3 linked regions of the Homo sapiens genome follow. The protein of the gene in region 2 purifies or fractionates together with the protein of the main gene of each other region. This does not show direct contact. Each region holds a gene or a part of one and is shown on either strand. Other genes may lie near its edges. The genes, in order: SMPDL3B, CEP15 and CEP89.

What was found.
Region 1: the proteins of CEP15 (region 2) and SMPDL3B purify together in Homo sapiens (affinity purification with mass spectrometry; one large-scale study listed by BioGRID and IntAct). This does not show direct contact.
Region 3: the proteins of CEP15 (region 2) and CEP89 purify together in Homo sapiens (affinity purification with mass spectrometry; one large-scale study listed by BioGRID and IntAct). This does not show direct contact.

What each region holds. Positions count from the first base shown.
Region 1 is NC_000001.11:27,941,333-27,945,066, forward strand, and holds part of SMPDL3B (acid sphingomyelinase-like phosphodiesterase 3b isoform 1 precursor), read left to right. Parts: intron 1-942; coding exon of another isoform or gene 943-1,032; intron 1,033-3,734. UniProt on the Homo sapiens protein: Lipid-modulating phosphodiesterase. Active on the surface of macrophages and dendritic cells and strongly influences macrophage lipid composition and membrane fluidity. Acts as a negative regulator of Toll-like receptor signaling.
Region 2 is NC_000003.12:62,332,522-62,336,021, reverse strand, and holds part of CEP15 (centrosomal protein 15), read right to left. Parts: intron 2,768-3,500; coding exon 2,633-2,767; 3' UTR 1-2,632. UniProt on the Homo sapiens protein: May play a role in ciliary assembly.
Region 3 is NC_000019.10:32,875,404-32,878,171, forward strand, and holds the end of CEP89 (centrosomal protein of 89 kDa), read right to left. Parts: 3' UTR 522-2,768; downstream 1-521. UniProt on the Homo sapiens protein: Required for ciliogenesis. Also plays a role in mitochondrial metabolism where it may modulate complex IV activity.

The sequences.
Region 1 (3,734 bases), on a different chromosome or scaffold from region 2:
CTGCCAGGATGAAATAAGACCAGTGTATGAAAGTCTGGGCACCTATCCAACACTGTCTGAGTGCCTACAATTCTAACTGGCCTCCCCACAGCCTTGTTCATTCATCGAATGTGCATTTGCACGTCTTCCACGTCCCAGGCACCCTTCTAGGCACTGAGGACATAGAGGTAAACAAGACGGGCTTGGTGCTCTCATGGAACTGACATTGTAAACAGGGAAGATGGACAATAAGCAAGCCAACAAGGTAAGTTCACATGTGATAGTGCTCTGAGAAAAAGGAAGCTGGGGAAGAAATAGCGACCAGACAGGCAGGAGAGGTGGCACTTGAGATGAGGTGGTCAGGGGAGTCTTCTGAGGAGGTGACCTTGGGGCAGAGGCCTGAATGAGGAGGAGGCAGCCGCATGATGATGTGGGAAGATTGGGCGAGGCCATGGCGTAGTCAGGGAAGAGGCCCTGTGAGGAGAAGCAGCTTGGCTGAGGGTGGTGGGTTGGGCTGAGCTGACAAGGTCGCTGGGATCTGCACTCCCACAATGAGGAGGCTGGACCCCAAGGAGTTGGAGCTGCCCACCTGGACCCCAAGGAGGTGGAGCTGCCCGCCTGGACCTCTGGCTCTCTCCACCATTCTGTCCACTAGCCTGGCCTCTCCTGGAGTCAGCACACACACATGCACACACACAGACACACACGCACACACACATAAACACACATGCATGTACACACACCCTTCAGCAGTATGTGCCAGAGAGGCTGGAAAGTAGTTTCAGTTCTACACACTGGCTGGAAAACGACAACTGACAGGTGAGATGAGGAGTTTCTGGAGTGGAGAAATGTTCCTGAATACTTTGAGGGCTGACGTCAAAGGGGCCAAACTGCTCAGTGTTTGTAGTTAACTGAGAAAGAGCCAGCTTGAGGCAGGGGAATAGCCTCTTTCTCTGTCTGCAGAGGAAGCGCAAGGACCATGTGCCCAAGAGAAAGGCAAAGGGCCTCCCCCAACATCCATCCTGGCCAGCCTGGCTCCGGGCTTGGAAGCAGGTGAGAGCCACTCACGGTCTCAGCTCAGGGACTTGGGATGCCCAGCAACTCTGCCCACCAACTAACTGGTATGAGGCAGTTCATTCCTTTACTCTGGCTTGGGGTTTTGTCACTGTATTCTTTTTAATTTTTTTGAGACAGTCTTGCTGTGTCGCACAGGCAGGAGTGCAGTGGTGCAATCTCGGCTCACTGCAACCTCCGCCTCCTGGGTTCAAGCGATTCTCCTGCCTCAGCTTCCCAAGTAGCTGTAGCTGGGATTAAAAGAGTGTACCACCATGCCTGGCTATTTTTTTGTTTTTTGTTGTTGTGTTTTTTTTTGAGATGGAGTCTCGCTCTGTCGCCAGGCTGGAGTGCAGTGGCACAATCTCGGCTCACTGCAACCTCCGCCTCCTGGGTTCAAGCAATTCTCCTGCCTCAGCCTCCTGAGTAGCTGGGATTACAGGCGTGAGCCACTGTGCCTGGCTGAATTTTATTTTCTGTAGAGACGAAGTCTTGCTTTGTTGCCCCTGCTAGTCTTGAACTCCTGGCCTCAAGCAATCTTCCTGCCTTAACCTCCCAAAGTGCTGAGATTACAGGTGTGAGCCACTGTGCCACCATGCCTGGCAGGAATATATTAGTGATCACAATATGTGTGGAAAGGTTAAATTTTCCCCATTATAAACAAAGGCTCAGTTTGGATAAAAAATAAAAATGTGGGAATATGCTGTCAACAAAAAGACCCATCTAAAATAGAAAGGCACTGGTTTTTAACCCCTTTCACAATCACATCTTCCTGGGAGGGATTGGAGCCCAGAGATCCCCATCATTTACCATGTGATCTTAGGCATGTTGACCTCCAGACCTTAGTTTCCTTATCTGTAAAGTGGGATAATGTTCCCAGGGCTCTGCGGAGAACACTGTAACAATGCATGTGGGAGGGATAATGATTTGCTTAATCAGCCATTTACACTTTAGTATGAATGTGTTTCACATCCTTTCCTGAGACTGTTTAGATCAGGAGAGGTGGGGAAAAGCTCAAGAGCATCTGGGAGGGAAAGTCAAGGAGTGAGGGTCAGGGGCCAGCCTTTATCTGCAGGCTGTCCACTGAATGTCCTGTGGCCTGGGTGGGGCCCTGGCTATCCAACCCTGAGATCAAAAGAAGTCCAGTCTCCCAGGCCCAGACACAGCTTCTTGGGGCCAGTGATGTTGACTTGTGGCTCTAGGTGACACAAGAAATGGGGGAGGAAGTGATTGCAATAGCAGAGGGTGAGGAAATCCTGGGCGTCATTCTTGTTTTATCGAGAAACAGGATGAACAGAGGCCAGATCTGCTCAACCCTCCTTCAGTAAGCAGTCATTGAAACAACTTGTGCTGGCCAGGTGCGGTGGCTCACGCCTGTAATGCCAGCACTTTGGGAAGCTGAGGCGGGCGGATCACCTGAGGTCAAGGAGTTTGAGACCAGCCTGGCTAACATGGCGAAACCCCATTTCTACTAAAAATACAAATACAAAAAAAAAAAAATTAGCTGGGCGTGGTGGCGCATGACTGTAATCCCAGCTGCTTGGGAGGCTGAGGCCAGAGAATCACTTGAACCCAGGAGGCAGAGGTTGCAGTGAGCCGAGATTGCACCATTGCACTCCAGCTTGGGCACAGAGCGAAACTCTGTCTCAAAAAAAAAAAAAAAAAAAAGAAACTACTGTGCCAGGCCGTGTTGGGTTCGCATGAGAAGTCTACTCCATCTCACCTGTTTCTTTGGATTCCTTTCTCTTTATTACACTGTGAAGTTTTTTGCCACTTCAGCCTCCTTTGGTCGGAAACTGAGTCTAGGTTTCGGTCAATCACCTCAGCAAGCAGGACCACTCCCAGCTGCTTGAGCCACACCTTGGATCCAGAATCACCAGCAAATATACCTACCAGAGGAGGTCAGCCCGATCTGAAGTGGCGTTCCTTTTTCCCTGGTCTAGTACTCTTATACTCACTTCCACATGTAGTCCCCAGGTTTTTGCTGTTTTTGTTTTGTTTTGTTTTGGAGACAGAGTCTTGCTCTGTCACCCAGGCTGCAGTGCAGTGGCATGATCATGGCTCACTGCAGCCTCCACCTCCTGGGCTCAGGCGATCCTCTCACCTTAGCCTCCTGAGTAGCTGGGACCACAGGTACATGACCCCACACCCGACGAATTTTCTAAATTTTGTGTAGAGATGAGGTCCGCCTATGTAGCCCAGGCTGGTCTTGAACTCCTGGCCTCAAAGAATCATCTTACCTTGGCCTCCCAAAGTACTGGGATTACAGGCATGAACCACTGCACCCGGGCTTTGCTGGTATTGCTTAGCAAGGTTTTCCAGCTCATTTGGTGTGTAAGCCTTTTCCATCCAGGTCAGACTTTTTTCTTTTTTTTTTTTTTTAATTTTCCAAGAAATTCCAGGACAGGTCAGATTTTCATATGTAGTTATATTTCCCTGCAGCATGAGAGGATATGGCTCTAGTTAATGGGCTTAGAAAAGTGACATAGCCCAGGTCACACAGCTCCTAAGTGGCTCAGAGCCTGAGCACTTAACCCATACCCTCTCCCGCCTTTGCTTTAAAACAAGCCCCCTCATTAGAATGCCTGAGCTCTAATGTTGTGGCTGCCCATCCAATGTGGGGAGGAGGACGGGGCCTTGCCAAAGGTCAGCGCTCAGGGATGGAGCTGAGCCTGTTCTGTGCTCTGCTCAATGTGTCCCTG
Region 2 (3,500 bases):
TTCACTTTCATTCACACTGCTCCCTACGCATGAGAAAGACCAGATGTCTGGTTTCCAGAGTATTAAGCTTTTTCCTTAATACTTCTTAATTTTTTTTCAAGTTTAAAGAAAAACTGTAGCTTCTTCTGATCTTTAGCATTCTACAGTTTAATAATTTCATATACCAGAAGTGTTTCTGCAGAAAATGAGCTTTGAATATTTATGCATTTGCAACAGTCCACAAACGGCTTTGGAAAAAATTATTTGACTTTCATTTTGAAAACTCCATTTTTCTAAAAAAAAACCATAAATTCATAGTTTTCATGGAGAAGAGTGGTGGAGTACAATGGAGCATATGGAAAGAACACTGAATTTGGAGAGAAAGGTATGAATAGATGACATTTCCTTTTCCTTGTCTGATTCCTACTAATTGTAGAAAAAATATACATTATATATGGTATTCCTCCCTTCTTAACAGAAAACAATGTTTGGAAATTCCTGTGTAAAGCTAATTTGCCATGAGGAACATAAAGCCCATTAATGGGATATCCAGGTCCCTATGGGAATTTTTTTTTTTTTTTTAAACAGACACCATGTGGTGCAATCTGTTACAGTCTACAAGGTGGGGGTGGGGAGGGGAGCTCTGCAGGGGCCAGGAATAAAGTCATCTCTGGGAGTTTTTGAGGTATTAACAAAAATGGGAAAAACACTACAGCAGGAGCCTTGGAAATGCCTTCCCTTCTGCCCTCGATCGTAACCCAGGGTGTATTACGTTTATGCTTTTCAAAAATTATTTAGCAAGTTCTCAGTTTTAGGGAGAAAAAAACCTGAACCTTTTCTGAGATGGTTAGATTGCCATTTGTTTTGTATTTTTATCTAACCCACTGGTGATTTAATTTACAGATCTCAAAGGAAGTGCATGCTCAAATATTTGAGGATGTTAATGTATCAACCACTGTGTAATTTTGGAATTTGCCTACTCGCTTGACACAATATTTTACCATCTAACAAATGTTTAGCCTTTTTTTCACTTGACTAAAGAGAAGTAAGTTTCACATTGCTTCATTCACCTTCTTATGTGCATATGCTGGGAAAGATTGGATGTTAAAAAAAAAAACAACTTCCTCATGTTCCTTTCTACTACATCTAAATCTGTTTACCAATTCAAAGCTGCTAAAAAAACCTGCATTCTCCTGCTAAATCAACTGGATGGCTAGAAACCAAACTGTAATGTAACAGAAAAAAATTATCAATTTATTTTCATGACAGAACATTCTTGAGAAGGTATAAAATTGTTCTGGTTGCTATGCCAGTTTTCTTTTTTCTTCCTTCCTCTGTCTTCTTTTTTCAAAGGCTTTTAGCTTTTAAGCTGATACTTTTTATAGTTATATAACAGTTCTAATATTTTGTGACATTTTGTATTGTGACACTATAGATGAAATTGTCATCGGACTGACACCCTGTGCTGTTTATTCCTTAATTACAACTGTTAACACTGTAGAGAAGTGTGCTAATCTGCCAGCACATATTATGAAAACAACATTATTGTTACCCACACCAACACCCACTCAACAGGATATTTCCAAGATGGTAGTTTAAAGGAACTTATCGGCACAACGGACGTTTCAATATAGTTGTTGTTGTTGCTGTGTATTTAGCTTTTCCTATTGTCTTCTTTTAAAAACATAAACCAGTTTGAAATTTAAAACATTTCATTGTAATATAGCATAGGTACCCTTTACTAGCAGAGGCTGCCTCTATAGCTGGAAAGTTATATATACATATTTTTTTTTTCTTTTTTTTTTTTAAGTGCTCAAGCAGTGGTGGACTGAGGAATCTCAAAGCTGTTTAGGGTTGTGACCCAACGCTTTCTGACTGACAGTTTTTTCAGGAATAATGAAATTAGAAGGAAGCGGGAAGGGGAAGTTTAAAGATGAAAAGACAAGAGTGGGGTTATTTGCATTCACAAGGTTGGCAATCTTTAAATAACCAAGTCAAAATCCAATAACCTTTCCCAGCTCTAAAAGGCATCCTTTTTCAAAACCAAGTCTGAGTCTTCCTGAAACTGGCTACTTATTGACTGCTTTATAGTTCAGTTCTTTCTGTCTCCAGAACTTGCAGAGCTTTGGCTATCTGTGAGGGACAAAATCCTATGAATTTATTTTCTCATAAGTTATTTTGCTAGAGCAGTTTAGGTGTCATTGTCTTTTAATTTGTTAAAAGAAACAATAATGGTTTAAAAAAAAAAAAGAACCATGTTGATCCTATACCTTGTCCCTAAAAAGTAAGGATTCTAAAAAACTTAACTTAAAACCAGAACCAAGATACCTGCTTAGAGGAGAATGATTGTAAATTTTTTTTTTTTTAAAGCAACACACTCACAACACTGACAATAATTTAATTAATAAAGAGTCCACCTTTTAATATTCGTGTTTAACACATCTATGGGTTTGGTAGAAAGCAAATTCATGACCTTGAAATAGTAGTAGGTGATAACATGTGACTTGCCAGTAAATTCTCATATCTTCACTGTCACTTAGGAGATAATCGAAGAATATGAACATATTTAATTCCTAAAGTTCCTGCAATAACCTACATACACCTTAACATTCAGCTTTATTAAACAGGCTTTTTGAAATAGCATGTGAAGAAGTTATCGCTGTGCCTCATTTTGAATGGTATTTTCTGCTTCATTTTGATTTTCAACAGCAAAAGGATATGGTGCTCTTCCTAAAAGAAACTGTTCCCATTTGGGAATATATTCTTCTACTGATGCCCAGTAACGAGTCTGGAAAAAAAAATCCAAAAGTAAAAAAGCATATCAAGCAATTGAACTTGGCTCTTCATAATAGTCTAAATGTTTATTCACTTAAGAGTGTGTATGCGTGTATACACACACACACACACACACATATATGTAGAATGCATTTCCTCTACAGAATATTTTATGTTAATTTTAGAAAAAAATCTGGCTACTTACTAGTGTTAATTTTCAAATTTCTCAGTAAAACCAGAGCCTGGCAGAATTACAGGTTTTAGAATTTTATTGTGATTTTACACGCCCTCTTGTGGCCAACTTCATGATTATTGCTAATAGTATCATTTATGGTGATATAATCATTAAATGTTTTTGTTTAATATTCCAAATCCCATACCAAATGATTACCCCATACTGAAATTATTACAATGAAATTATCAAACATAAATCATGCTTCAGGATTAACATCAAAAGATTTGACCTGGGATGAGATCAGGAACTGAAATACAACTAGTGTGTTATAGTACAGGAATTAGAGATATTGGACCCTTAATTGTGTAGGAAATATATATCCACTATAATTTTTCCCCATTTTTGTGATGACAAAATGTCAATATAATTTAACCATTTTTAATACAAATAGCTTGGAAGTTGAGATGCTGTATTATTGGTCTGACTGTAGAAGTCTATAGGCTTTAGAAGCTCATGAAACATTGCTGTGTTGTGTCTAGCTTTGGTTTCTTGGGTGACTGCCCTAGGGAGG
Region 3 (2,768 bases), on a different chromosome or scaffold from region 2:
CCCATCCCCTCTCCCACTCCTGGCTGCAGCCACTCCTTACCTGTGGACCCCTGCCCAGCTGTGACCCAGCAGAGAGGTGCCACAAACCTGGGCACACTGAGCCCTCCCCATGCCGCCCAGCCAAGTTTTGAGTGGATGATGTTTCCAGTCTTACTCAAGAATTCAGATGTCAGCCCAGCCCCATCCCAAGAGGCTCAGCCTCCTGCTGTGGGATCTGTATCCGGCTCAAGCCCTCCCTGCTGGAAGAGCTGCTTGGGCCCAGGGAGGGCTCTCCTGAGCCACCCACACTGGGGACTGTGCCTTTCATTCCCGCCAACGATACAGGTAGGGGAGGGGGTGAGGAGCCAGTGACAGCTGCGCTCGAGGCTAAATGCTAGGCCACCCTCGGCCTTAAATCTCTGTCCTCTCAACACAGTTATTGACAACACCACCAAGCATTGATGAGGATGCGGAGCAACCGGAACTTGCGCGGAGGTTGGTGGTGGGAAAGTAAAATGACACAAACACTCAGGAAGCAGGCCTGGGTGTTATTTCTTTTTTAATTGTCTATATAACAAAATCCACTGTTGTCACTGTTTTCCAGCATACAGTTCAGTGGCGTTAAGGGCATTCAGGACAGCTCTCATGACAGACTCACACCCACATGCACACCTGGTGCCCCAGCCTGCTTTGTCCACTGTCTCCATTTCCCCAGGGCTGCTTTTACTTTTTATTGTATTATTTTTGAGGCAGGGTCTCACCTGGTTGCCCAGGCTGGAGTGCAGTGGCATGATCATAGCTCACTGCAGCCTCAACCTCCCAGGCTCAAGTGATCCTCCCACCTCAGCCTCCTGAGTAGCTGAAACCATAGGCGCCATCACCATGCCCAGGGCTGCTTTTAAATAATGGCAAAGCCAGCAAGGCTCACTCGCGTGCCTGGGTCATGTTCTACAGCTGCTTGACCAGGAATCTTCCAATGCCGTATGAAACCTCACCAGGACCAAGAAAGAGAAGGGTTCCCTGCTCAGACCAGACACTTGCAGCATGGGGAAGGAGGAGCCCCTCCCAGCAGACCCAGTTCTCCTCTGTGCAGTCCGGCCTCATTTCCCACCCAAGCTCTGACCAAACCCCCTCCTGCTGCTCTGAGTGCCTGCTGTGCTCCTGGGGGCCCTCTCCACCCTTCTGTAGCTCCTGAAACCTTGTCCACTCTGCAAGGGCCGGGGCGTGCCAGTTCCTCCCAGAAGCACCCCAATGTTTCTGTCCTTTCCTGGAATCTCACAAGCACCCAGGTGCCTCTCTGCCTTGCCTGCCCCGCCCTCCTTGGCATCCTGGACTCGTGGCTTCTCTGCCCATTTCCTATGGCACCCAGCAGGAGGCTGGGCAGAAGATAGTGTCTGTGGGACACCTGCCCTTGCCCTGGTCACAGTGCCATCCAGGAGTCCCCATACTTGCAAAGTATGTTTGCACTGTGTGAAAAACTTAAAGCAGAAACATAAGAACAAAAGTGGACACTTCTCAAAAGAATAAAATGTTTGCATAAAAGGCAGAAAGACAGGGATGTCAACAGTGGTTCTCTAGGTCACGATGGCGGGAGCAGCATTCCTGCTGACAAGCACTCCTGCCCCGCGCAGCCACGCTGGGCTGCCGCCGCCTGTCAGCCTGTCTACAGGAGGCTGCAGAGCGGCCGTAAATGCCTTTGAAATAGCATCACAGTTATTTGTTAGGTCATCTCCTAGGGAGATGATACACAGTTTTCAATCCCAGTGAGTCTTTCTACCGCTTGTAAAATAAAATTAAATTACAATGATTCAACTGTTGAACAAGCTTATAGAGTCATAAAAGAACTATGATTTTCTATCTCACCCTTCCGTCTGGCAATCAAAGATCACACGTAGAACTTCTACACATGACCAAGGACCAGTACTGGGGCCTCCTTCCCACCTGAAACAAGGCAGGACTTCACTGCGAGGGGCTCTGAAAAGGAGATGCTGCAGGGTGCCACCCCTGAGTCCCACAGTTAGGGTCCTTTGTAGCCCAATGTCCCCAAGTCCCTCCAGCATGCCTGGGACTGAATGGTCCTGAGCGGCTGGGGTAATTTTCCTGAGGAGGTGGCACGTCATCTAACACACATGGGACAGAACCATGGCCCCCTGGTATGCTTCTTGGTGGTGGCAGTGGGGCAGGGACTCTATCTTAGCTCAAAGCCAGGGCTCTCATTACATGGGTGGGGAGCTGTGTGGCTCCAGAATCAATTACCTTCCCAGACCAGGCGCGGTGGCTCATACCTATAATCCCAACACTTTGGGAGGCCTAGGCAGGAGGATTGCTTGAAGCTAGACGTTTGAGACCAGCTTGGGCAACATAGCAAGACCCCATCTCTACCAAAAAAAAAATTTTTTTTTTTTGAGACAAAGTCTCGCTCTTGTTGCCCAGGCTGCCCAGGCTGGGGTATAATGGCGTGATCTTGGTTCACTGCAACCTCCGCCTTCCAGGTTCAAGCAATTCTCCTGCCTCAGCCTCCCAAGTAGCTGGGATTACAGGCACCCACCACCATGCCCAGCTAATTTTTGTATTTTTAGTAGAGATGGGGTTTCACCATGTTGGCCAGGCTGGTCTCGAACTCCTGGCCTCGGGTGATCCGCCTGCCTCGACCTCCCAAAGTGCTGGGATTACAGGAGTGAGCCACCATGGCTGGCCTACAAAAATTTTTTTTTTACAAAATTAGCCAGGCATGTTAGTGTATACCTGTCATCTCACCTACTCAGGAGGCTGGGATGGGAGGATCGCTT